3 separate regions of the Homo sapiens genome follow, and all the other regions are linked to region 3. The links come from fine-mapping of genetic effects on plasma protein levels. A gene starts in region 3. Each other region holds a variant in brackets. All regions are shown on one strand. Distances are from middle to middle.

Region 1 (8,432 bases), 36 kb after region 3:
TCTCGATCTTTCTGTCATTTGGCCACAACTGTTGATGACGACCCAGATTTCCAGGCCCATCTCCTGCCACCCCCATCCCCTGCCCCATCTACTCTTCTACTCAGAATTACTCACTGTGCCCAATACAAATACACATTCAAGTTCCCATGCCTTCGTCTATGCTGTTCCCTCCACCTAAAATGTGTTTCTCCCTGCTTTCATCTGTAGACCTTCTACTCATATTTCATACCTAGATGGAATTACCCTTCCTCTGTGAAGGAGGCCCCTCCCCAGTAGCTGCTCCTCCTGTATGTTTCTATGGACTATTTCACCTTTATGACATCCATGTCTGTGTCCCATAGCCTAAGGTTAGCTCCTGAGAGCAGAGACTGTGGGATGTATTATTGCATTCCTGTTCTTTCCCAAGTCTCTTGAGGCTGTGGGTACAGTTGGAAATACTCTCATAGTGCTTACACTATGCGCATACACATAATGCTTACAGTACTACACATCGACACAGTGCTTACACTATTCTAAGCCTTTTACTTGCATTGCTTCATTTAACCCTCAACACAGCCCTGTGAGGTGGATACCATTATTAGGCCGATTTTACAGATGAGGAAACTGAGACACAAAGAGGTAAAAGGATGTGACCAAGGACACACAGCTAATAAATAAATGAGGTCAGAATTGGACCGCAGGTAGTCTGGCTCAGCTACCACTTAGCTATTTGAAAACCTGCATTTTCCATGTGCTTTTCCATACCTTAGTACCATGATATGCAGCCTGGTGAGTGTCTCATTTATTGGCAGGAGGGGATTCTGAGGGTTGGATCATATGTGCTTACAAATAACGCTATAGGGCCTGCAAGGACATCCATCCACCCCTGCCTTGCCTCTTGAGCCCCTCATCAGCATGCATTGCTCACAAAGCTACTCAAGACCACCTGCCAGTGTGTGCCCCCATGCCCCACTGCAGGGGCTGCCTCCAACACAGTTGAAGCTGCCCACCCTGGGTGTAGCCCCTAGAGACCACGGTGCACCAGAACCATGCCGGGCAAGTGGACCATCTCCTCTACTTTCTGTTGTGCTTTGCTTCAAGGTCACCAAAGTTGCTTTCACAAAGACTGCGGACAAAGGAGCCCTTTGGATTTCTGCCTGAAGCTCCCTTCTCCTTTGGCCTCAGGAAAAAAAAAAAAAAAGTCCTGGAGCTCAGTTAGGGGACTGACAGGTCAGTGCTGCTCCCCTGAGACTTGCTTTTGCCCTCTAGCACCGGCTCTCTCTCCGTGAATTTTAAACCTCTGCAGAGAGCCCCCTGCTGGTCTATGAAAGCATCAGCTACATCAGGTGAGGAGTGGACCCTCGTTTGAATCCCCAGGGCAGAAAAAATGAAATATACCTCTATAGTGGGATGGGCAATGTTCACTCTCAGAGAGCAATGGCAAATAAATAGTCATTGAATGGTCAATTCCCTGTCTCTTCAATGATCAGAACACATACCAGTGCCCTAGCACAGGGGGTTGTAGGCAAGTGTTTTCTGTAAAGGGCCAGGTAGTAAATATTTTAGGCTTCACAGGCCATATGTGGTCTGTCGTGGCTACTCATCTCTGCCTTTGTAGTGCAAAATCAGCCATAGACCATATGTAAACAAATAGTGTGGCTGTGAACCAATAAAACTTTATTTATGAACCCAGAAGTTTGAATTTCATATAATTTTCACATGTTACAAAATACTATTCTTATTTTGAATTTGGTCGGTCATTTAATAACATAAAGACCATTCTTAGCTTTTGGGCCACATAAAAACAGCAACTGGTGGGATTTGGCCTGTGGGCTGTAATTTGCCTACCCCTGCACTCAGAGATAAGCTACTTGGTTTGGTTCATGCCTTTTCTTGACGTAGGAGAGTGGGGAGGACACAGCAAAACCTGAGTCCCCAGGTCCTGGGCACAGTGACTGGGCATCTTGGGGATTTCCCTAGCTCTAGCTAGAAGCAAAACTGACAACTTTAAAGTCTCTCAGATAGACTTTTAAAGCATCTAGAAGGGGCTAGGTGCAGTGGTTCATGCCTGTAATCCCAGCACTTTGGGAAGCTGAGGTAGGTGGATCATTTGAGGTCAGGAGTTTGAGACCAGCTTGGCCAACATGGTGAAACCCTGTCACTACGGAAAATACAAAAATCAGCTGGGCATGGTGACAGGCACCTGTAATCCCAGCTACTCAGGAGGCTGAGGCAGGAGAATTGCTTGAACCTGGGAGGCAGAGGTTGCAGTGAGCCAAGATCGCATTACTGTGCTCCAGCCTGGATGACAGAGTGAGACTCCGTCTCAAAACAAACAAACAAACAAATGACAACAACAAAAAACCATCTGGCAGGGCGTGGTGGCTCATGCCTGTAATCCCAGCACTTTGGGAGGCCGAGGTGGGCAGATCACGAGGTCAGGAGATCGAGACCATCCTGGCTAACATGGTGAAACCCCGTCTCTACTAAAAATACAAAAAATTAGCCAGGCGTAGTGGCGGGCGCCTGTAGTCCCAGCTACTCGGGAGGCTGAGGCAGGAGAATGGCGTGAACCCGGGAGGCCGAGGTTGCAGTGAGCCGAGATTGTGCCACTGCACTGCAGCCTGGGTGACAGAGCCAGACTCTGTCTCAAAACAAAACAAAACAAAACAAAACAAAAACATCTAGAAGATTCCTCCAAACTGGGTTAAAAAGTGAGTAGGAAGGATTGCTTTTCCCAAAGATGAGGGAGTGATAGACTTATCTTTTTCTAACTGGGGCTCTAAAAAAGGAAACATAGCTAAAGGTTTTGACTAGTTCTTCCTCTGCTGCTTGAGAAGATATTCACCCTGACTTTCTTCCATACCTTTGCCTGAATCTCTATTTTAGAAATAAGATTTTGTTCCTAGTCTAGACAGAAGAGCAAGAGGGATGGAGGAGGTCAAGGAAAATCTCAGTGTCTTGCTGGGCAGAGGATGCCCTTAGGGCAAGACTGAACTTCTGACAGACAGAGCTCCACTGATCTGTTGGTTTTAGATGGGAAGTTAACTTTTCAGATTCTTTAACATGACATTATTCTACTGGAAACAAACCAAGGGACCTGGATAAAGTTTTTAAAAAGTGTTTTCTTAAAGAAAAAGGAGGGAGGTAGGCAGGAGAGAAGGGAGTAAAGAATTACACAAAGATTTGGTCTAACGGCTTCAAAATCAAAAGGATCCCTGGACAGATAGATATTGAGTGTAATAGGAAACACACTGATCCTGGGGAGATGACTTAATATAGGCCCTCCAGCCTCCTCAGAGCTTAAACAATTACCTACAATTTGGAATTATACTTTAAATTCCCACATCAATGTGTGTTCTGGATCCACTTCTCAGGACACGGCCAGCAGTCTTGAGTTATCTAAACCATGCTGAAAATTAGAGGCCATTAATAGCATCTCATAAAAGTGCTTCTCAGATTTTCTTGAGCAGAATATGCCGAAGACCACAAGGGATTTGGTGATAGGAAGGAGCGAAATGCTTCTAGTTATTTTTCCAAAGCTTAATCTGGGGATCTTTTTGAAGAGCTCCTACCCAGCAGTGAGATGCATGCCAAGACTAATACGACTGTTTTTCCCACTTAGAAGTGGTGACCATGAAGAAAAGTTTCTTGGGGTTCCCAGAGGTGAGTCTCCTAGCCATTTTTACAGGTAGCAAGCCCACTAGTTTGCTATATCCTTGTCCAAGAATTTCCCAGACACCCTAGACTGAAAACTGAGGGTAACTTGGCCTATGAAGCTCTAAGTTAATACACTTTTCTTTTCTTTTCCTTTTTTTTTTTTTTTTTTTTTTTTTGTGGCAGGGTCTCACTGTGTCGCCCAGGCTGGAGTGCACTGGTGTAAATCTTGACTCACTGCAACCTCTGCCTCTCAAGCTCAAGCAATTCTTGTGCCTCAGCCTCCCTAGTAGCTGGGTTTACAGGCGTGTGCCACCACGCCCGGTTAATTTTTGTATTTTTAGTAGAGATGGGGTTTCACCATGTTGGCCAGGCCGATCTTGAACTCCTGACCTCAGATGATCTGCCTGCCTTGGCCTCCCAAAGTGCTGAGATTACAGGCATGAGCCACCACGCCCGGCCGAACTTTACTTTTCTGATACTTGAATTTGCTTGTAAAACTGTTGAGGTTGTATAACCAAGGACTCACTTTTTTGTTTTCTATCAGTGAAACAAAACAACAAAATCCTGAAGATGTATATTCTGAGCCTTTCTCTGTTCTTCCAGAGTCCCAGAACCTAGCATTTGGGGACTAGGACTGTTTCACATTGGGCAGCGGCCATTCCAGGGGCCCAACTCTTGGCCTCAGCAGGCACGGGTCAATGCTTCATGGGCTTGCCAGAGGAGAGACACAAGAGGCCCCAAAAGAGCAGCTTCTGCTAGCAGTTCAACTGGGAAGTACAACTCAACAAGCCGGCACTAATTAAGAGCTAATGGCCTTACAAATGAGCATTGCCAAAGGATAACGACCCTCCGGCTGCAGCATAAATATCAAGGCATTTGGGGCAGAGCCAAGATATATATTTTCAGAGTGCATTAGACACTGCAGCAGCCTTCCTCACCCTGGCTCTGCTAAGAAGAACAAGATGATTTAAGATAGGTAGGAAAGAAGCTTGATCTTCCAGGGCTGCCTTCTGGTCAGCAGGTCAGAAAGCCTCCGAGTGACTCTTGGAAAAGACTTCACTTTTGTATATACAAGAATCACTTGAGGAGCTTGCTAAAATGTAGATTCTCTTGGCCCCACCCCCAAGATGGTCTGATTTTGGAAGCTCTGGGATAAAACCCAGAAATCTGCATTTTTGTTTTATTTTATTTTATTTTTGAGACAGGATCTCACTCTGTCACCCAGGCTGGAGTGCAGTGGCACGATCTCACTGCAGGCTCCACTTCCCAGGCTCAAGAGATTCTCCAGCTTCAGCCTCCCAAGTACCTGGGACTACAGGTTTGAGCCACCACGCCTGGCTAATTTTTGTATGTTTTGTAGAAACAAAGTTTTACCATGTCACCCAGGCTGATCTCGAACTCCTGCGCTCAAGCGATCCACCTGCCTCTGCTTCCCAAAGTGCTGGGATTCCAGGCATGAGCCACCATGCCCAGCATTTTAAAACAGATCCCCCAAGTGATTCTGATGCTTGTGGTTCTCAGACCACACTTTAAAAAATGTTGCTTTAGAAGCTGCTGCTATTTGCCCATTAGACCCCAGTGATAAACTTTTTACAGAATGAAGATAAAAGTGAGGTCAGGGCCCGGCACACTGGCTCATGCCTATAATCCCAGCACTTTGGGAGACTGAGGCAAGTGGATCACCTGAGGTCATGAGTTCAAGACCAGCCTGGCCAACATGGCGAAACCCCATCTCTACTGAAAATACAACAATTAGCTGGGTGTCCTGGTGGGTGCCTGCAATCCCAGCTACTCGGGAGGCTGAGGCAGGAGAATTGCTTGAACTGATGAGGCAGAGGTTGCAGTGAGCTGAGATCGTGCCATTGCACTCCAGCCTGGGTGACAGAGCAAGACTCTATCTGAAAAAAAAAAAAAAAAAAAAAAAAGTAAGGTCAGGATTGTCTGCTTCCTGTGAAGACACCAGTCCAGAACATGGCATTTCCAGCCAGTCTCCATCCATTAAGGTCTTCTCATTCACACAAACCTGTGGTTACCAGGAGCAACATTTGAGGGGATGAGTAGCTCACCTTGGATTTTGAGAAAAATAGAAAGCATCCCTGGCCGGTGCAGTGGCTCATGCCTGTAATCCCAGCACTTTGGGAGACCGAGGCGGGAAGATCTCGAGGTCAGGAAATTGAGACCAGCCTGGCCAACATGGCGAAACCCCGTCTCTACTAAAAACACAAAAATTAGCTGGGCATGGTGGTGCGTGCCTGTAATCCCAGCTACTTGGGAGGCTGAGGCATGAGAATAGCTTGAATCTAGGAGGCAGAGTTTGCAGTGAGCTGAGATCATGCCACTGCACTCCAGCCTGGTGAAAGGGCAAGACTCCATCTCAAAAAAAAAAAAAAAAAAAAGAAGAAAAATAGAAAGCATCCCATCTGCATGATGTGTACCATGTCTGCGATGCTTTCATATACTGTAACTCATATGATCTTATTGCAGTCTTTCAGAGTAGTTAAGCTATTGCATCTGTTTTAAAGCTGAGGAACTGTAGACCTGGAGGTGTATCTTGCCTCTGCTAGTTGGCATGACATCAGAAAAGAGAGTGAAAAATAGTCACTGCATTACAATGCGGCAAGCAGGGCAGGCAAATCAAACCAGTAACTTAAGCTTGACTTACCTTGATCAGGCTTTTTATCTGCTGGTAGAATTGAAGTTGGTTGTCGAGATCGGCAAATATTGTTGTAAAAGGATTGATGGGTCAGATTATAAAAATAGATGGAAAGTTTGTAAGATAAATGCAAGCAGAGTATGAGAACAGGAGAGAAACAACCCACCATATCATCTGGGAAAATGAAACTCCTTGGCAAGACTTCACAACAGCCTGATTCAAAATTTCATAATGAAATTATGTCTCTGATCAAAGCCTGAATGAGCTCATAGGCTGATTTTTGCCATCCGTGTTTATTCTGGTTTGCACCAACTTGAGGCATCAGAAACACATTAACTGAATCTTCTCTCTGGGAGGAGGCTATGGTATCCTTGTTTTGGGGATCAGAGGGACAGTGTGGGGTGGAAGGGGGCATCTTCACTGATCATGAAGTTTTTTCCAAATAGCTCTCAGAGCTTCCCTAACACAGGTCACAGTCAGGGCCTTCCCAGCAGAGCTGCATTTAATCTCATGATACTTGCCCTTGGGGCAATAAAAGCGAAGCTTGAGGGACAGAAGGTATTTCCAGCTCTAGCCTATGACATGGCCTGCTTTTGCTCTAAAGAGAATGTTTTGGGGTTTGTTTCAAACTCAGAGAAATAAAGACTCAATCATCCCCTGCTCAATTAGAATACCTCACTTTATAACAAATTGTTTGTTTTTATGAAATGAGCTACACTGCATGAATCCACCCTTCCTCTTGCCTAACCATCTCTTCTTTGGCCTATCCAGAGGGTACAAAGATGGCCATTTTCTGACAATTTGAGGTACCAAAAAAGAGAGAGGGACCAGGCGAGGTGGCTCACACTTGTAATCCCAGCACTTTGGGAGGCTGAGGCAGGTGGATCACCTGAGGTCAGGAGTTTGAGACCAGCCTGGCCAATGTGGTGAAAGCCCGTCTCTACTAAAAATACAAAAATTAGCTGGGCATGATACCATGC[G/A]CCTGTAATCTCAGCTACTTGGGAGGCTGAGGCAGGAGAATTGCTTGAACCCGGGAGGTGGAGGTTGCAGTGAACCGAGACCGGGCCACTGCACTCCAGCCTGGGCAACAAGAGCGAGACTCCGTCTCAAAAAACAAAAACAAAAACAAACAAACAAAAAATAAATTGTAAAAAGAGAGAGGGCTTCTTGGTTCAAACACTGGCATCTAGACACTTTATTCTGGCTAGTAGAAACAGAAATCACTGGGTCTTAATGCCTTCCTTCATCCTCAAGGCAAGAGACATTCCCATCTACTCATTCTTTCACTTAATGAATATTTTTTGAGTCCTTTGTTTCAGATGCTATTCAAGTCTTAAAGACACAGCAGTGAACAAATTAACAAGGTCCCTGCTTTTAAGAATCTTACATTCTAGTTTGGGGGAAGCAGCCAATAAACTTGTAAAAAAAATTCAACTAGTGATAAATGCCATGAAATAAATAAAACAGAATACTGTAACAGAATAACTGTGAAAGGGTGAAAGGTGGCTGATTTAGACAAATTAGACAGGAATGAGTTCTCACAGCAGGAAGGGTCACCAGATAAAATACAGAACGTACAGTTACATTTGAATTTCAGGCAAACGATGAATACTTTTTTAGTCTAAGTATTTTCCAGGCACTGTTGGAGGTGTACTAAAGAAAAGTATTCATTTTTTTTCTCTGAAATTCTAATTTAATTTGGTGTCCTGTATTTCTATTTGCTAATTCTTGCAGGCCTACCAATAGGTGATATTTGAGCTTAGGATTGAATGACAGCTATGCAAAGATTCTGGGAAAGAGTGATTCAGGCAGAGAGAATATCCAGTGTAAATGTCAGAATAACCAGAGGGAGGGACGTACACATGAGATTAGATAAATAGGCAGGCAGGGGCCAGATCACAGAATCCTGTAGGGATGGCAAAAAGTTTGAATCAATCTCTGTCTCTGTCTGTTTCTCCCTTCTCCCTTCCCCTACCTCTCATTCTAAGAGTGATGATAAGCCACTGGAGTTGTAAGGAAGAGAATGACACCTCCTAACGGATATTTGGCTGCTGTGTGGTCGGCAACTTTTGGAAGGACTTAGAAGACAAATTCAGAAGACAAACTTAAGCTTGTGCCACTGGCCTGGGAAGAAGCTTCT
Region 2 (8,682 bases), 24 kb after region 3:
TATTCCTTCTGTGGAAGGAAACATCGATCTATTCACTTCCCATCCTTGTCAGAATCTGGATAGGTGAGGTTCTCTCCACAGCCGCCTTCTCATGCCTGCTCCACCTTTGCAGTCAGTGCCGAGGGGAGCCAGGCCTGTGCCAAAGGCTGTGAGCTCTGCTCTGAAGTCAACGGCTGCCTCAAGTGCTCACCCAAGCTGTTCATCCTGCTGGAGAGGAACGACATCCGCCAGGTGGGCGTCTGCTTGCCGTCCTGCCCACCTGGATACTTCGACGCCCGCAACCCCGACATGAACAAGTGCATCAGTGAGTGTGGGCAGGGCTGTCGGGGGCAGGGGGCATTAGAAGCTCTGGACTGGGGGAGAGTGCTTTGAACCATTGGTGGCTGGCAAGAGGAGCAGAGGGGGCTCTGAGGAGAGGAGATGAGGCTCCGATTCAAGTATCCAGCCGCACACTTCCACCTTGGTGTGTAAATATCAGAACCCTGTCTCCTCCCTTCGCACCTGCCCCTACCTGTATTCCCAGAGGTCACCCTCCATGTCCCAACCTGTCACCCAAGCCACAGCCCTGAGTGCCAACCTCTCCCACCCCATCCATCCAATCACCAAAGCCTGCCTGTCATCTCCTGTATGTCCACACTGCCACTGTCCTCCCCAGGCTCCCAGCACCTTGCTCCGGGATCATTGCAATAGCCTGTTCATCTGTCCTCCAGCCTTCATCTGGTTCCCTGAAACCCATCTTCTGCACTTCAGCCAGAAAGACGCTTCTGAGACACACACCCTACCCCATCACACTTCTGAGACACACAACCTATCTCATCACACTTCTGAGACACAGAACCTATCCCTATCCCATCACATTTCTGAGACATACAACCTATCCCATCACACTTCTGCTTAAAAACCACTGCTAGCTCCACATGGGCTGCAGGGGAATCCAAGCCCAGGCAGCCTGCTCTTCCACTCTCTTCTCTCCCTGGTCTTCTGACTCCTCATTTCCACAACAGCTACAGCTCCACATGCTCCAAGGCACACGCTACCATATCTCCATCCCTTCTCTGTAGATGCAGCTGTGATGTGCTGGGGGACACGTGTGAACACACTCGGGGGACAATGCCAGTGCCCCCACCACTTGTTCAGTGCCTTGCCATTTAGAATGCATTTGCAGGTCTCATATCAGTTGAGCCTCACAACAACACTGGGAGGGAGACAGGACACAATTGATGGTGCCCTTTTCAGGGCTGACAACATTCAGGCCCGGAGGGTAAATGACTGGTCCAAGACTAGACTGGACCAGTCCAGCTCAGAGTTGGTTCTGAGCTCAACTCTGCTACTTCTTCATTGTGTGACCTTGAGCACATCTCAACCCCTCAATGCCTCATCTTTGTTTTTACCCCCTAGGGTTGTTGTGAGACATGCATGTAAAGCCCTTAGTGTCTGGCACTCAATGAATGGTAGCTGCTATTGTTCTTATTTTTGTTCTTATTTGACTGGCAACCAAACCCAGGAATCAGAGCACCAGGGAGGGAAGGAAGGAGGGAAGGAGAGAGGTGAGGCTGAGATAAGCCTGGAGGATGGTGGGAGTTTGTGAGGACAGAGGTGGGACCCTGGGAGCTACCCTCTTGGTCCTCATGGTCCTTAAAGTCGGGAGCTCCTGGCTACACCAGCTCCTAGGAAACTGGCAGCATGGGCTTCAGGTGGCAGAGCCTGGGAGGAAGTCAGCCCCGCCTGCACTCTGGGAAGGAGAGATTGTGAAAGACCCTGCCTGCTTCCAGCCAAGCCCTGGAAGACCCACCCTGCCCCCATTCCCCCAGAGGAGAGAACTGGCAGCAGGGAATCAGGGAGGGACCCAGGAGTCCTACCAAGGTTGTTGCTGGAACTCAGCCTTGCAGAGGCAGAGGCATTTGCCCTGGGATGGCTTACCCCTCCTCCATGCTGATTCTTTCTGCCAGGCAGGAGGAGAACCACAGTTTGGGACATTGCAGATGCCCAGCAATGAGGGAAGAAGAGATCATGCAGCCACTCTCTGGGGGGCCATTCTGTCCCTCAGTTCAACTCTGTTTAGGGTGGCCCTCTGGATGCTGTGAGATGCTGAAACTCTCCTGTCCCACCCCCACCAGGCCCAGACGGCCCCACCCTCCGCCTCTGAAACTGCTCTCTTGAGCCTCACCTTGGGCTGCAGGGACTGAGACTGGGTTCATGATCGAGTTGGCTGATGGTGGCAAGAGTCCCAGCCAGCCTTCAGGAGCAACCGCTTCAGCTTCTTCTTCCCTGGCCTGCCACTGCCCTTCCTTTCCCTTTCCTCCCAAGATTCCTCTGCAGTACCTGCAGCTCTAGGCCAGGGTCCTGCCCTCCATGTAGGTGGGTGTGGACAGAAGGGAGGGTATTGGGGCTGGGGATGAGGGGAAACATTCTCACCAGGCTGGGCCAGAAGCCCCCAATCTGTCCTCTCCTCAGAATGCAAGATCGAGCACTGTGAGGCCTGCTTCAGCCATAACTTCTGCACCAAGTGTAAGGAGGGCTTGTACCTGCACAAGGGCCGCTGCTATCCAGCTTGTCCCGAGGGCTCCTCAGCTGCCAATGGCACCATGGAGTGCAGTAGTCCTGGTAAGCCATGGCAGGCACTGTGGGCAGAGGGTCCAGGACCCCAGAAGGAGGGGCCGGGTAAGGGTCTGGCAAGAGAGCGGGTGGGCTGGGGCACTGTGCAGGGAGAGCTTACCCTACCACTCCTTTCTGAGTCTCCAAGGACTTTTCTGCCCTCTGGACTAAAGATACCTGCAGCCTCAGGTCCAGGCAGAAGGAAAGTGGGAGATGCTCCCCTGGGCTATTCTGGGCCAGAGGAGGAGACATGATCCCCTCCTCCTTGTCCTTCTCTCCCTTCCCTTCTCTTCCTGCCAGCGCAATGTGAAATGAGCGAGTGGTCTCCGTGGGGGCCCTGCTCCAAG[A/C]AGCAGCAGCTCTGTGGTTTCCGGAGGGGCTCCGAGGAGCGGACACGCAGGGTGCTACATGCCCCTGTGGGGGACCATGCTGCCTGCTCTGACACCAAGGAGACCCGGAGGTGCACAGTGAGGAGAGTGCCGTGTCCTGAGGGTGAGCTGCAGCCTCTGCCTCCCTGGGGTCAGGGCTCAGGCACCAGCCATGACAGGTCCTGCCACCTCTGCTTCCTGCCCACGGCTCAGGAAGAAGCTTCAGGGCAAGGCCAGATGGGGCACCCGCAACTCAAGACCTCATGCTGTCCAATCCAGATGCCATGTCCTGGCAGAGAACAGGGCCTCAGAACTCTGCATAGTGGAAGCTGGAAGCTTCTGTGGTCAACATCCTTCCGGTTCCCCCATTTCTTCTGAGCTAGTGGATGTTCATACTAGAAGGCCCCTCGGAGGCAGGATGGGTGGGTGAAAAGGGGCACTAAGACCCAGAGGGGTGTAGTGATTCCACCAAAGTCACACAGCCTGCAGTTGGCAAGGGGTTGGCTGCTGCTCTTGCCTGGCCCCAGAGGTGGCTGGTGGCGGATAGGGGATGGGGGCAGTCCTGCCTGTTCTGAGAGTTGCACTGAATACCTGGGAAGTGCTCTTGGTCCATTGGGATCCAAGGTCTGAGGAATCCATGAGGAAGAGGATGATGTCTTGTGTGCCTTGAGGGTTGGGGAGTGAAAGGGCTCTTGGGCTGCCTCCCAGTACTCAAGCCTCGGGGTCCTCTGAAGTGGCTGCTGTCAGAGGAGGTCACGATGACCCAACTACCTAGAGGCAGCATCTCCAGCCTCCTCCCTGCCTCCCCTTCCGGCTTCCTCACACTCCCCTCCTAGGGCCTGTGGCCATGCCCAGGGCCTCCCTGCACATCCTTTGTTGATTCTTCCTGCTGTTTGGTTGTTTCAGGGCAGAAGAGGAGGAAGGGAGGCCAGGGCCGGCGGGAGAATGCCAACAGGAACCTGGCCAGGAAGGAGAGCAAGGAGGCGGGTGCTGGCTCTCGAAGACGCAAGGGGCAGCAACAGCAGCAGCAGCAAGGGACAGTGGGGCCACTCACATCTGCAGGGCCTGCCTAGGGACACTGTCCAGCCTCCAGGCCCATGCAGAAAGAGTTCAGTGCTACTCTGCGTGATTCAAGCTTTCCTGAACTGGAACGTCGGGGGCAAAGCATACACACACACTCCAATCCATCCATGCATACATAGACACAAGACACACACGCTCAAACCCCTGTCCACATATACAACCATACATACTTGCACATGTGTGTTCATGTACACACGCAGACACAGACACCACACACACACATACACACACACACACACACACACCTGAGGCCACCAGAAGACACTTCCATCCCTCGGGCCCAGCAGTACACACTTGGTTTCCAGAGCTCCCAGTGGACATGTCAGAGACAACACTTCCCAGCATCTGAGACCAAACTGCAGAGGGGAGCCTTCTGGAGAAGCTGCTGGGATCGGACCAGCCACTGTGGCAGATGGGAGCCAAGCTTGAGGACTGCTGGTGACCTGGGAAGAAACCTTCTTCCCATCCTGTTCAGCACTCCCAGCTGTGTGACTTTATCGTTGGAGAGTATTGTTACCCTTCCAGGATACATATCAGGGTTAACCTGACTTTGAAAACTGCTTAAAGGTTTATTTCAAATTAAAACAAAAAAATCAACGACAGCAGTAGACACAGGCACCACATTCCTTTGCAGGGTGTGAGGGTTTGGCGAGGTATGCGTAGGAGCAAGAAGGGACAGGGAATTTCAAGAGACCCCAAATAGCCTGCTCAGTAGAGGGTCATGCAGACAAGGAAGAAAACTTAGGGGCTGCTCTGACGGTGGTAAACAGGCTGTCTATATCCTTGTTACTCAGAGCATGGCCCGGCAGCAGTGTTGTCACAGGGCAGCTTGTTAGGAATGAGAATCTCAGGTCTCATTCCAGACCTGGTGAGCCAGAGTCTAAATTTTAAGATTCCTGATGATTGGCATGTTACCCAAATTTGAGAAGTGCTGCTGTAATTCCCCTTAAAGGACGGGAGAAAGGGCCCCGGCCATCTTGCAGCAGGAGGGATTCTGGTCAGCTATAAAGGAGGACTTTCCATCTGGGAGAGGCAGAATCTATATACTGAAGGGCTAGTGGCACTGCCAGGGGAAGGGAGTGCGTAGGCTTCCAGTGATGGTTGGGGACAATCCTGCCCAAAGGCAGGGCAGTGGATGGAATAACTCCTTGTGGCATTCTGAAGTGTGTGCCAGGCTCTGGACTAGGTGCTAGGTTTCCAGGGAGGAGCCAAACACGGGCCTTGCTCTTGTGGAGCTTAGAGGTTGGTGGGGAAGAAAATAGGCATGCACCAAGGAATTGTACAAACACATATATAACTACAAAAGGATGGTGCCAAGGGCAGGTGACCACTGGCATCTATGCTTAGCTATGAAAGTGAATAAAGCAGAATAAAAATAAAATACTTTCTCTCAGGGAGGTGTCTCAGAGGATGTGATATTTGAGCCTAACTCTGAAGGATGGGTAGAAGGATTTAAGACAGACTGCTGCTGTCCAGTAGAAATATGTGAGCCACATATTTAATTTAACATTTTTGGGCCGGGCGCGGTGGCTCATGCCTGTAACCCTAGCACTTTGGGAGGCTGAGGTGGGCAGATCACGAGGTCAGGAGTTCAAGACCAGCCTGACCAACGTGGTGAAACCCCGTCTCTACTAAAAATACAAAAATTAGCCGGGTGTGGTGGTGTGCACCTGTAATCCCAGCTACTCGGAGGCTGAGGCAGGAGAATCACTTGAACCCGGGAGGTGGAGGCTGCAGTGAGCCGAGATCACACCACTGCACTCCAGCCTGGGCAAAAGAGTGAGACTGTCTCAAAAAAAAAAAAAAAAAAAAAAATGCCAGGCAGGGTGGCTCACGCCTGTAATCCCAACACTTTGGGAGGCAAAGACAGGAGGATCACTTGAGCCCAGGAGTTTGAGACCAGCCTGGTGTGCAAAACAAAATTAAGTAATAAAAAAAGAAAATGTTTTTCTAGTAGCCACAGTATAAAAAGGAATGAGGTGAAATTAATTTTAATTACATCTGTTATTTAACCATATATATGCAAAGTATTATCTTTTTTTTTTCCTCATAGAGATGAGGTCTCACTATGCTGCCCAGTCTGGTCTTGAACCCCTAGGCTGAAGCGATCCTCTTGCCTCGGCTTCCCAAAGTGCTGGGATTATAGGCATGAGCCACTGCATCTGGCCCCAAAGTATTATCTTTTTAACATGCAATCAAGGTAAAAAATTATTAGTGAGATCTTTTACTTTTTTAAAACTAAGTGTTCAATGTTCCATGTGTATTTTTACACTCACAGCATATCTTAATTTGGATGCTAAATTTTCAGCAGAAATACCTGATCTGTAATTACATGGCATAAAAACTAAAGTTGAAAAAGAAGATACACATACCCAAGTTGTTTTGAGAATACTTACCAGTTTTTCTGTAACTGAATGATGTATGTTTTTAAATTTTAAATTTAGCCAATTAAAATTAAATAACATTAGCAATTCAGTTCTTCAGTTGCACTAGCCATATTTCAAGTGCTCAATAACCACATGTGGTGAGCGGCTACCATGTTGGACAGCACAGTTCTACAGACATGCATATGCAATTGTCCTGTGACAGAAAATAGTTTGGCCAAGGAACTGAAAGAAAGCCAGTATAGCTGGAAGGTCTCGAGGGCAAATGAGTTCAGATGATTCTAGAAAGATTGCCTGGAGTTGGCCCTTTATTCTCAGAGCCAAAGGAGGCTACTGAAGGGTTTTAAGCAGTAGGCCAAAACAAGCAGATTTGCATTTTGCAAAGATCATTTTGTCTGTAGCTTGAAAGACAGATTAGGGAGGGGTTGCTTAGGAGGCTGTTGCTGTCATCTAGGTGAGAGATGTTGGAGATTTGAACTAGGGTGGTGGCAGTGGAAATGGAGAGAAGTGAGCAAAATCAAAAGGTATTTGGGGCATAAAGTTGACAGAATTTGGTGATGCATTGGATGTGGAAGAGGGGAGAGACGGGGAGGAGTTATCAAGGATGAAATCTCTTTTTCTGACTCAAACACCCAGACAGATGACAGTGCTGTGTTCTGAGGTGGGAAACCTGCGAGGAAGACCAGTTTGGGAGAAGAAGGAAGAACATAAATCTGCTTTCGACCACGTTGAGTTTGTAGTACCTCTGAGACATCCTGGTAAAGATGGTGAGCAGACATTGCTTAGACATAAACACAAGTTTAGTTGTACAGGCGGAGTTTGGGATGGAATGTAAACTGGTGTACAGAAGGCAATTGAGGCTGTGGGTTTGGAAGAGCTCAACTGAAAAGACAGCACTGGTTGAAGAGAGGAGTCTGGGCCCAGCTCTAATATAAAGTCCCTCTAAATATAAAGATCAGATCACAAACGGTGAGTTAAAGAAGGAGCAGGCAAGAGGAAACCCAGGGGAATATCAGGTCCCAGAAGCTAGCAAGAAGGAGGGAGAGATCAAGCAAAAGAGGACTGGAAAGTGACCATTGGACTCAGCAACGTGTGCCAACAGAAGCTTAGCAGCAGTGTTTGGGGAGGGTGATGGAAACAGACAATTCCTTAGCTGTGAAAAAGAGGAAGAGAAATAGGACAGGAGCTAGAAAGAAATATGAGTCAAGAGAGACCTTTTTTCTTTAGATGGGAAAGACTTGATGGTATTTAAAACCTTCTGGGAGGGGTGCACTTAAGAGAAAGCAGTTGAGTACACAGGCAAGAGAAGGGGAAATCAGTAGTGGAAGGTTCCATGGGGAGGGATGGCTCTGCAAGAGCAAGGAGAGAGTGATGCAGGTGCGGGAAGCCTGGGAGGTGAGGAAGGTGGGGGATTTCATGTCTGTGCACCTGCAGGTCTTGTCCCGTCTACACCTGTGATCTTCACTGCCAGTCACAGACCGCCCACAGCCAGCTCCAGCCCCTCTTCACTCACTCTTTACCTTGTCTCCTCTCCTTGACCCTGGCTGTGTTTTTGCAAGTCTCTCTGTGCCATCCATCTTCCATCTCTGTGTTCCCTCTGCCTTTGCCCCTCTCTGCGTCTCTAACTCTGTCTTCTCGGTCCCTCTTTTTGTCACCCTGACCTTCTCTGTTCCCACTTCAGCCTCTGACTCTATTTTTGTGCACCATTGATTCTCTTTGTCCTTCTGTTTCTCACTTTGGGGCATCAATCCTCAGTCCCAGTATGTCTTGGCTGTCTTTGTCTCTGATTTGTCCCTGACCCTTAGGCTCTTGCTCCTCAAAGTGTGGCCATGGACCAGCGATCTTGGCCTCATCTGGAAGCTGCTAAAAATACAGAATCTCTGGCCTTACCCAGACCTAAAGAATCTGATTCTGCCTTGTAAGAAGATCCCTTAGTAAATTTGTGCAGATATTTAACAATTTGAGAAGCACTGTCATAAGCTTTCCTCTACACCAACATCAAAGCAGAAATCCAGAATCTTAGCAACATCAAAGAATGAGCTGGATCCTCCTGTATCTCCTGCCATCAACTCTGTGATGCTCTGAGCCATCCCGCTTCTCTGCATCGCATCTTTGAGCCACCTAAAGCTGCTCTTGAGGCCCTAGGCAGCTAAGATAAGGAACACAGTATGGGTTTCAGGAAGTCCTGAATCCACTGATGTACACCCCACACTTGAGCTTCTACATCTGCAGAATTACTGGCAAGATCATCTGAT
Region 3 (10,419 bases):
TGGAGACCCAGGGAAGAGCTGGTGTTGCAGTTCAAGTCCAAAGGCAGAATTTCTTCTTGCTCAGGGGAGTTCAGTCTTTTCCTCTTATGGCCTTCATCTGATTGGTTAAGGCCCACCCACATTATGCAAGGTAATCTGCTTTACTCAAAGTCTACTGATTTCAGTATTAATCCCATTGAAAAAATACTTGCAGAGAAACAAAAAGCATAATGTTTTTTTCCCATGGCCTAGCCAACTTGACACTTACTTTTCTTACTATTGGGCATTGTGCTTTTTAGCTATATTAGTTCATGGTTGACAAGAAAGGCAGATGGCGGGGAATCACCCTGGGTTTGTCCACAGTTAAGGGCTAGGAGGGGAGGTGGACAGATATACAAGGAAACAGGAACCAGGACAGTGGAGAGAAGCATTCCAAGAAGGTGGAGGTGTCAAGAATTGCAGAGGGATAGAGAAGGAGGAAGACAAAGGAACCACAGAATGCGGTGATAAGGAGGTTTTTGGTGACCTTAGCCATGGATCATGCAGGGAGAGTGAGAACTGTGGCAAGGAAGGGGGCTCTTTCACATGGAAGGATTGGGAACTGGAGTCTAGTACAGAAGCATGCAAATAAATGGCTACAAAACGCAAAATAGGGCCAGGCATGGTGGCTCATGCCTGTAATCCCAGTGCCAAGGTGGGATTGGTCTTGAGGCCAGGAGTTCAAGACCAGCCTGAGCAACACAGTAAGACACCATCTTTACAAAAAAAAAAAAATGTAAAATTTTTTTTTTTACATTTTGGGCATTGTGACACGTACCTGTAGTCTCAGCTACTTGGGAGGCTGAGGTGGAAGAATGAGCTATGATTGTGCCGCTGCACTCCAGCCTCAGTAACAGAGTGAGACCCTGTCTCTAAAACCAAAATAAAACCAACAAACAAATACAACATACACTACAACAGAAAGGAAGCTGTGATATGAAATAATGGGGGAGCTACTCAGATGGAGAGGTCAGGGAAGGCCCTTCTAACAGAATAATTTTTAAGTGGAGATTCGAAGGAAGAAAAGAGGCTAGGCACAGTGGCTCACACCTATAATCCCAGCACTTTGGGAGGCCAAGATGAGAGGATTGCTTGAGCCCAGGAGTTCGAGATCAGCCTGGGCAATATAGTGAGACCCCCGCCTCTATTAAAAAAAATTTTTAATCCAAAAAAAAAAAAGGAAGAAAAGAAATGCCCCATATGAAGAGCTATGGGAAGGGCAAGATGGCAGAGAACCTGTGCAAAGGCCCTGAGATGAGAAAGAGTCTGGAATTACCAAAGAACTGAAAGAAGCCTGGTAGGGCTGAAGCCAAGAGAGAGGCGATGTATGAAGCTGGAGGGATGTAGCCTTATAAGGGATGGTGTTTGAATTTGGTTCTAAGTGTGATGGAAAATCACTGGAAGGTTTAAGCAGGGGAGTAAATGATGGGACCTGCTTTATAATTGTTAATTTACTCTGGCTACTGTGTGAAGCCTGTGTTGGTGGGGGACAGAGTGGGAGTGGGGCAACCTGGAAGGGACACTAACAATTGTCCAGGTAAGCGGCAAAATTGGCTTAAAGCAGGAAAGTTTCTGGGGGCAGATCCAACAGAATTTGCCAGTAGAGTGGATGTGGGAGGTGAGAGAGAAGAATGCAAAACAACTCCCAGTTTCTTGCTTTATCAGTTTCATCGCTGTTTCCAAGGAGAAAAACTGGGGAGAAAGAGGTTCTGTGCAGGGCCCAAGAGTTTAGTTTTAGGAGCAGGGAGTTGAAGGGGCCACTCTTGGCCATCTTAGCTGCTTGATGATGGGGGCTGGGACGGAGTGAGAGGCTGGGAGAGGCTGGAAGGGGAAGTCTGCACGGTCATCCGTGGGCTTGCTGAAGCCCCAGTGGAGGCTGGCTGTGGATTTGCAGTGGCACTGTCTCAGGTAGCTGGGGGACTGTCCAGAGGAGCTCAGCAGGAACTGGCAGGGGGTTTGTGGGGCAGTTGAGATGTTGAGGCAAGGCCAGTGCAGAAATCGTTATCGGGCAGGTGAAACGCCAAGAATCTGAATTAGAAGGAAGGGCATGAGAGATTGGGAGCAGAAGGTTAGAGTGGGGGGGTCTGAGGATCTTGAAGCCTATGATTTCAGGGATGGAGTAATTTGGGTGAGGTCAAGAGGGGGTGGCCATGTGAATGGGAGGCCAAAGTGGAGTGGACAAGAGTATCGACCTGGTCCAGGAGGTCCCAGAGGTGTTGGGCGTAGCACTGACATAGAGAACGAGGTCCCCAACGTGATGCTTGAGTCTGCCACAGAGAAGAGGACCTCGAGACAGATGCCAGGGTCCTGTGTGAGCAAAGAAAGCACAGCAGGGCATGGGGGAAATAACTCAGGTGAAGAGAGCAGGGAGGTAGAACAGGAGGAACAGTTACAAAAGGGAGGGCAGGGGGGCGGTGTGGAATGAGGCAGATGCCACACCCTCGTGCAGGAGAATGAGTGGTATTGCCAGACTTTGTTGGGCAAAGGGGATGGCGTCCCTGGTGTGTGTTAAAGGAGCCTGAACTCACTCACAACAAGGTAGAGAATCTGAGAAGTGTGTTTCTGCTGGTATGGGGCTTCCAGAGGACACAGCAGACCCCCTGGGAGGAAAGTGGAGAGAAAGGAACAAGGAAGAGCTGGGCAGTGTTCTTGGGAATGATCTACTTTATTATTGCTCACTGGGGCTCCTCACTCCCTTCAGTCTCGCCTCTTCAAATTCAGCCTTCACCAGAGCTGCAAGACACTCCTAAAGCACAACTCTGGTCCTGCCTTTCTGCCTCATCAACACTCAGGGGCTGCCCTTGCCCTCAAGGTAAAGTTCCTGCTCTTTGGCCTGGTACCATAAGGTCCTTTTGGAAGCACCCCATCTGCTGCCCTCTTCCCCGCCTCACCTCTCTCATCCGAAATCCCCACGAAGCAGAACTACTTATAGCACTAAGGGCACCACGATGCAGCAGGCCTCCGGGCCTTTGCACCTGCCATTCCCTCTGCCTGGAATGCCTTTTGATCACATGTGCCTAGAAAATGCCAATAAATCTTTCAAGCATTTCTTCCCTGGAGAAGCCTTCTCAGATTCCCTCAAGGAGTCACAGTCACCCCTTATTTTGTCCCACCACTCTACCTCATTTACCCTTTCACCAGGCTCTTGAGTCGGCCTTCCTCACTAAACCAGGAGTTCCTTAGGAAGACAGTGTGATACTCATTTCTCTATCCTCCATTTCCAGCCCTGTGCCTGGGATACAATAGTGCTTGGTTGATATCTAATAAAGGCACTGACCAAATTATAGCTAATAAGAAGAGCCAGCATGTACTAAGTACTTACTATAATTCCTAACATTGTGCCAAGCTCTTTAAATGCATTATCTTATGTCATCCCTGTAAGAACTGTGGTGGGTTAATACTGTTACTATATGTATTTAACAGATGAGGAAACTGAGGCTTAGGGAGGTGAAGTGACTTGCCCAAGGACATTAAGCTAGTCAGTGGTAGAGATGGGCTTCAAACTCGGCCGATACTAGTGTCCATGCACTTAGCTGTTATGCTATATTGCCTCAATGAAAGAAAGGATGACAAGATCTAGCCAGGGCAGTGGCTTACGCCTGTAATCCTAACATTCTGGGAGGCTGAGGCAGGCAGATCATTTGAGGTCAGGAGTTCGAGACTAGCCTGACCAACATGGTGAAACCCAGTCTCTACTAAAAATACAAAAAAAATTAGCTGGGCGTGGTGGCGTGCCTGTAATCTCAGCTACTTGGGAGGCTGAGGCAGGAGAATCGCTTGAACCTGGGAGGCTGAGGTTGCAGTGAGCCGAGATCGCATCACTGTACTCCAGCCTGGGCAACCGAGCAAGACTTCTTCTAAAAAATAAAAAAATAAAAAAATAGAAAGAATGAATGAATGAATGAAAGATTTCAGAGAACAGCAGGGTTATGAAGACTAGAGTTTTCAGGGGAGCCTATAAATTGACAGTAACAAAGTCAGCTTTTTCTAGAGTAACAGTAATGATCACAGATGCCAGTAGTTTCCAATCCAAAAGCCCTTCTTCCGTGCGGACAGAGTTCTGCTTTTGTCTGTGAACATCCTCCCAGTTCCTTAGGAACTCACTGCAGTGGAAGAGACCATCATTGGCCAATGATGGGTGGTGTACAGGTCTACACAAGGTTTGGAGGCTGACTTTCGAGGTGGTCAGGCTAAACTTCATACAGGCCTTTTGAAGGATGACACAAAAAGGATTAGAGAAAAAGACATTTCTTTTTTTGAGACGGAGTCTTGCTCTGTTGCCCAGGCTAGAGTGCAGTGGCGTGATCTCGGCTCGCTGCAAGCTCTGCCTCCCGGGTTCATGCCATTCTCCTGCCTCAGCCTCCCCGATAGCTGGGACTACAGGCACCCGCCACCACACCCAGCTAATTTTTTGCAATTTTAGTAGAGACGGGGTTTCACCGTGTTAGCCAGGATGGTCTCGATCTCCTGACCTCGTGATCCGACTGCCTCAGCCTCCCAAAGTGCTGGGATTACAGGCGTGAGCCACTGCGCCTGGCCGAGAAAAAGACATTTCTAAGCAGAATGAACAGCATATGCAAATTTAGAGCAACACAGCTTTCCCAGGGAAACAACTCATTTGGCATAACCTGAACTGGGCTGGCCACTTGCAGGCTGTGTGTCTCTGAGCAATTGACTTGGCGTCTCTGAGGATCAGAATTTACATTTATGGGAAAAAAGGAAAAAAGAAAGGAACTACAATAGTTGCGAAATTAGGTAACAGAATATATGTGCAAAACACAGTGCTTGGCATACATTAGGTGCACAAGAAACATTCTTTCTTATTCACCCATTATTGTCACATGGTTCTAATTCGTTATCTTCTGTCACCCAGGTGGCTTTCTTCCCTTTCTCACTCATTCCTGAGCCTAGTAACGAGGCCCCCCAACTTCCACAGACTTTTCCTCAGGCAGGAAACCCGAGCCCACTGCCTGGCCTAGGACAGCTTCTAGGGCTGTGTGGTTTGTGTTATTTCTTCTCTTTTCTCTCTCTCTCCCTCTTTTTTTTCCTAAATGCAACAAAATAAAACCAAACAAAAAGCCCAATGCCTGGCGTGGCTTGTCAGAGAGTTATGCAAGTGTGTAAAAAAATAAAATAAAATAAACATTGAGTTTTCGGCATTTGGGGCTGTTTGATTAGACACAGAGCATAGCCAAGGGCCGGTTAGACGCAGGGAAGGCTCAGGGCAGAGGTGAGAGAGGAGGGACTTGAGTGGGGGTTGGAGGTTGGAGGGGGCCCCTGGACCAACTCGGAAATGACTGTTTGCCTCCTGCAAACTTGGCAATGCTCTGGCTGAATGAACCCAGACACTGGGCATTTCGGACCCAACTGCTCCACTTTCTCTGGCTATCCACCATCCCTGTTCCCTGGCCATTGGGACACTCTAGGGGTCATTACATCCATCCTCCTGTCATTGTAAACGACCCTGTGCCCTTAACTCAATAGTCAGGGCTCCCCCCTTCTCTCCTAAGAGGGAGATTCCACAGCCTGTCTTGATTACTCACCCCCCCTATACACACACACAATCAGTACATCTTTTCTGCTCTAGCTTAACTCCCACTAACTACAGTTTTAGCCCATTTTCCTTTCCCAATCTGAAGTGAAGCTGGAGAACAGCTGTTTGTCACTCTAAGAAGTGAGTCTCCTTCCCTCCCTTCTTCGGGCTTGACTTCAACATCATCTGGGTCACTGCAGGTGTCTGTAGCCGTTCAAGACTCATTCCACAAACATGTATGGGGTTCCCACCATTAACCAGAAGTTTGTAGCCTTCATTTCATTGAACCCTCAGAACAGATGAAGCCTTGCGATTCAGAGAGGTTCAGTAACCTAGGCATGACCACACAGCTGGTAAGTGATAGAGCCAGACATGAATCTAAGTGTTATTGTATGATCTCCCTCACTCTCACCTACCAGCTGCCTCTGGAGGTGTCCTCACCTCGGTGCCCAGGATCTGATAGCCTTGGTATTTCTTCTGAACTGGGAAGATGCACAGAAGATTTGACCCTGAAGGGGGAGAGGGTGTGGTCAAGACCACCAGGCTCTGTGGAGCCTGTTCCTTGTCACTTTCCAGGTTCCTGATGGGGAAACTGGGGTTTTCATGAGGGTCTCCGGCCGCGTTCTGACGCCAAGATGAGCGGAGTTGTTGCGGGTTCTCTGGCTGCGTGGAATCCCCGGGGCGCGGGGAGGGGCAGGGGACAAAAGCAGAAGGTCTGCCCCAGGGTCCTGGGGACTTGTCCCTCCGCCAGCCCCGCGCTCGGAGCGCAGAGCGCCAGCTTCGGGCAAGGACGTGTGGACTCCCGGGCCGGCGCTCCAGTCCATTTTTTCTTGCGGATCCCTGGAAGGGGGGCCGGCTCGCGGGGGGGACTGCGAAGGGGGGGATTCCCTCCCTGGTGCTCGCAGAGGACTGGCCCCTCTCCGGGCTGGGAGCTCCGGCCGAGCGGAGGCGCGACGGAGAGCACCAGCGCAGGGCAGAGAGCCCGGAGCGACCGGCCAGAGTAGGGCATCCGCTCGGGTGCTGCGGAGAACGAGGGCAGCTCCGAGCCGCCCCGGAGGACCGATGCGCCGGGTGGGGCGCTGGCCCCGAGGGCGTGAGCCGTCCGCAGATTGAGCAACTTGGGAACGGGCGGGCGGAGCGCAGGCGAGCCGGGCGCCCAGGACAGTCCCGCAGCGGGCGGGTGAGCGGGCCGCGCCCTCGCCCCTCCCGGGCCTGCCCCCGTCGCGACTGGCAGCACGAAGGTGAGTCCCCTCGTAGCTGCCCCATCCTTCTCCCCAGCGCCCCCTTCCCCGGGAGCTGGGGCGCGGCGGGCCCTCCCGTCGGGGCTGGTTCTAGCTGGGTGCGTGGGGGGAGACAGAAAGGAAGGGGAGTCTGATCGCTCTCCGGTCGGCGATCAGGACAGGGCACCTCCTGCACCCTTCCTGCAAGTCTGCCGCCCCCGTCGGCCCTCAATCCAGCAGGCAGCCTCTTCCCCTCGAACTCCCCTCCATCCCGCAGCCCCGGGTGATCATCCTCACTCGCAGTCCTGAATTCCCCAAGTCCACCAGCCCTGTTTATACCCCGCCTCCAATCCAGAAGTTCTTGATCCTGGGGCTCATTGGCTCGGATTCCCCCAAGTCCCACGGTCTCTGGTGACCCCCACCCCAGTCCGCAGCCTGGGCCTGGGTTCGACGTGGCAGGCGGCATGCGCTGCGGCCCCCGGTGCGCAGCGAAGTGGCGCGGCTCCCTGGCCCTCGGGGTCTGGCGCTCAGGAACCGATGGTATCGCTTAGTTGGGGAGAGGTGGGGGCTATGTTCGCCCGGGACTCCCTGGAGGGCCGGGACAGACTTGGAGTGAGTGTGCTTGGGGGCAGGAGTTTTCTTGTGAAACTGGCCTCTCAGACGTGGACAGCTCTCTTGGCTCTTGAGGGCCAGCCAGGGGAACCTCAGGTCCGCGTCTCCCTCGGCACCTGTTGGGGCCTCTGCGGGATGGTGGGGGAGGGAAGAAGAATGTGCGCGCTTGCGGGGGTGATGGAGGGGTGAAGAAGCCATCCTCCGCTGCCCTTGCTTTTGGAGGGGGGGCACGGCCCCAGCACCTGGCTTGGCTCCGACAGACAGGCTAATCCCGACAGGTCGGACAGGCACATACTTTGTCCCGCCCCCCGCCCGCAATTCTTCTGCCCCCGCCTGCCAGCCTGCTGGGCGGCCAAAACTCTCCAGCCTGTAGCCCGGCCCGGGGAGGGCTAATGCGAAATTATCTAGATAGTTTACATTTTTGGGTCTGTATCGGGCCCCTGATGGAGTACCACTTTATTCTGACGGTATTGCAGGCAAGAAGGTGAAAGTGATTCCAGCCCCCTCCCGGGGCTGAGTTTCTGCCCTCAGCTCCACCTCCAGCTGTGTCCCCCTCCCCGACCTGTATACTCCCCTCCGAGGCCCTTGTGGCCTCTCGCTTTGGTCTCCCTTCTCAGCTCTGCCTCTGCCACCAGCCCCGTCCCCACTTTGCAGGTCCACTCCCCAAGCTGGGTTGTGCCCCACACTCAGCAGCTCCCAGCGGGTTGCCCCGCCCTCCCCACACCCAGTCCTGGGTAGCAAACCTGAGGGCAGGTCCCTAACTGGGTCTGTAACCCCTGGGACACTTAACCATTCAGGGCCAGGTCTCTTCCCCTGTAAAATGGAAATAATTCTACCTTCCTCCTTCCATTGTGAGGAGTAAACGAAGACCTGGCACATGGCAGGTGGAGGGAGGCATCTAACAAGTGTGAATCCCTCACCCCCACAGTGGCAGAGAGAAATGCCCTTTCTTACCCCCACCAATAACCTGAGGCACTGCCAGCAGTCCCCATTCTATCTGTGTAGAGTGAGCCTCAAAAACATAAACTGCCAGTGCCATATAGCCCATGGCTCAAAGGAAATCAGACAGAGGACTCTAAAAGAAATGAAGCAGCCTGCTTAAAAGGGAGTCATCAGCTCATATCTCCTCTCTCAGCCCTAGCCCATGCTGTCCATGTCTGCAAGAGTGCATGCCTGTGTGTGCGCATATGGGGTCAGGGACTAGATGCAGGAATGTGGAGCCACTGAGGCAGGGACCTGTGGCCCTCTGAGGCTTGGTGCTGCAGGGTTCCTAGTCCGAGACCTGTCCAGCATTTCAAATCAGATTTCATGTAAGATCCTGGATTTTCCACTCCTCTTTTAGAAAATCAGAAGATCTTTCAACAATCAGTCAGAGCTGAACGGCATATGCTCCCTTTAGATGGGGCATTTACCCTCCAGTTTACCCCCTCCACATCCAGCTTCAATCATATATGTCATTTGTACCCCCTGGTATAGAGGAACTCTTAGCCCCTTTACAGGGTTGATTCTATATGTACATTTTCAAAAAGTGCTTGCAACTCTTCCCATCCCAGAGGTGGGGGAGGCCAGTGTCACTTGCTTCAGTGAAATTTACATCTGGATCCTCCTTACGATTTTCCAGCTGAGATTGTGGTTTCCTGGTGATTCAGGTGGGAGTGGGCCAGAAGATCACCGCTGGCAAGGACTGGGTGAGTGTGGCAGGGGTCAGCTGAAAACTAGGACCTGGGAGGATTGAGAAGGAATTTAGAGGGAGAGGAGAGGGAGGAAAAAGAAGGGAGCTAACATTTGCCGAGCACTCACCCTCAATTGCCAGGCACCATGACAGGTTGGCACAAGGAATGCAGAGATGCATAGGGGACATTTTGTGCCCCAAAAAACCCCAGGGATATTGATCACGCAGTGAGTCCAAAGTCTTTCAGATCCAGGGTTAACACCAAGTTTGTCTAATGCAGTGTTTGTCAACTGTAAGGACTCATGGAACAGATCTACCAGGGATTCTCAGACCTTAGTTTGAGAAATGCTGCAATTAAAGGCAAATCCTATCACTCTGAGTGATCGCTTTGGTGTCGAGGCAATCAACCATAAAGATAAATGCAAATATGGAAATTGCATAACAGTACTCAGTATTAAGGTTAGTATCCAGATGATACAGAACATGTTCATATTGCCTTTTGAATGATTATTAGAATGTAGACACAAAGTGAAGCTTTGGTCATAACAAATACAGCAAATATTATTGAGTCATCACTGTGTGCCAGCACCATTCTAAGCAGTTTTGTGTATTAACTCATTTAAGTTATAAACAACAATAACCTTCATGCAGATAAGAAAACAGGCTCAGACCAGCTAAGCAAGGTAACATAGCTAATAAGTAGCAGAACCAATATTCAAATCCAGGCAGTCTGACTCTGAAGTTTATGCCCGTGACTATCATGCTGTACAGCCAGCCTCTGAGACTACAGACTTGGGCCAGAAGACCCCAGTTTGATAAACTCAACTGGACATCTATAATCTGTGGGTGAGAGAATTGTGTAGTGGGGGCTGGGGAGGATAGAAAGGCTTTGGTAAATCAGGCAGGGAGTACTGGAGGGGCGTGCAGGGGTTGGCAGCTGACGGGCATTTGGGGGTAGCTGGGGGCATCTCCTCTGGCTCAGGCCACAGCACCAGGTGGGATCCATCAGCCTCATGTAAACACTTCTCACAGGCAGCTTAACCACTTGAGTGTGTCTGGCCTTCAAAGCCAGCGGGAGAGGCCAAGGAGGGAGGTACTGAACTCCCTTAGGGGATAATGATTTATCTCCCGTGCAGGTGGGCTCTGCTGGGGCCTCCCTGACAGGCGAGGGGGTGGACTGGCACTGAAGAGCCTAGAGGGGAAAGGATTAGGACAGGGGGTGGGAGGGGCACCTCCACTCCAGCACCTCAGATTTCTCATTCCTGAGCCTGAACTCTCTGACTCTCAGCTAGCCTGTGACATAGTCATGCTTGTCCCCATTTTATAGATGTGAAACAGGTTCAGTGAGGCTACATGACTTGTTC

Alleles and levels. Alleles are on the strand shown, and positions count from the first base shown. The strength of an association depends on the size of the effect and on how common the allele is.
In carriers of allele A in region 1, the plasma level of the protein whose gene starts at base 6,466 in region 3 tends to be lower than with G alone (moderate association).
For the plasma level of the protein whose gene starts at base 6,466 in region 3, allele C in region 2 goes with a higher level than allele A (moderate association).

What was found. PIP is the posterior inclusion probability: the model's chance that the variant is causal. The UK Biobank Pharma Proteomics Project read protein levels with antibody pairs (Olink). The fine-mapping took linkage between variants from a reference panel, not from the people measured, so its PIPs are less certain.
Region 1: its variant is fine-mapped to the plasma level of the RSPO1 protein (UK Biobank, PIP 0.94).
Region 2: its variant is fine-mapped to the plasma level of the RSPO1 protein (UK Biobank, PIP above 0.99). The variant lies in the coding sequence of RSPO1. If it changes the protein, the assay may bind it differently, which can mimic a change of level.

The regions. Positions count from the first base shown.
Region 1 is chr1:37,596,174-37,604,605 of GRCh38, reverse strand. No RefSeq gene overlaps it. Among named protein-coding and RNA genes, the nearest start is that of GNL2, 4.5 kb to the right of the region's middle. RefSeq lists an enhancer at 1,084-1,378. The variant G/A (reference allele first, on the strand shown) is at 7,273.
Region 2 is chr1:37,608,106-37,616,787 of GRCh38, reverse strand. RSPO1 (R-spondin 1) reads left to right here. Exons shown (of 7, transcript NM_001242908.2): 4 at 113-304; 5 at 2,455-2,604; 6 at 2,896-3,084; 7 at 3,867-5,438. The coding sequence ends at 4,033. Among named protein-coding and RNA genes, the nearest start is that of GNL2, 17 kb to the right of the region's middle. The variant A/C (reference allele first, on the strand shown) is at 2,943.
Region 3 is chr1:37,630,939-37,641,357 of GRCh38, reverse strand. It overlaps RSPO1 (R-spondin 1), which reads left to right and starts at 6,466. Exons shown (of 7, transcript NM_001242908.2): 1 at 6,466-6,792; 2 at 9,005-9,071. RefSeq lists enhancers at 6,065-6,591, 6,592-7,119, 7,648-8,175, 10,184-10,419.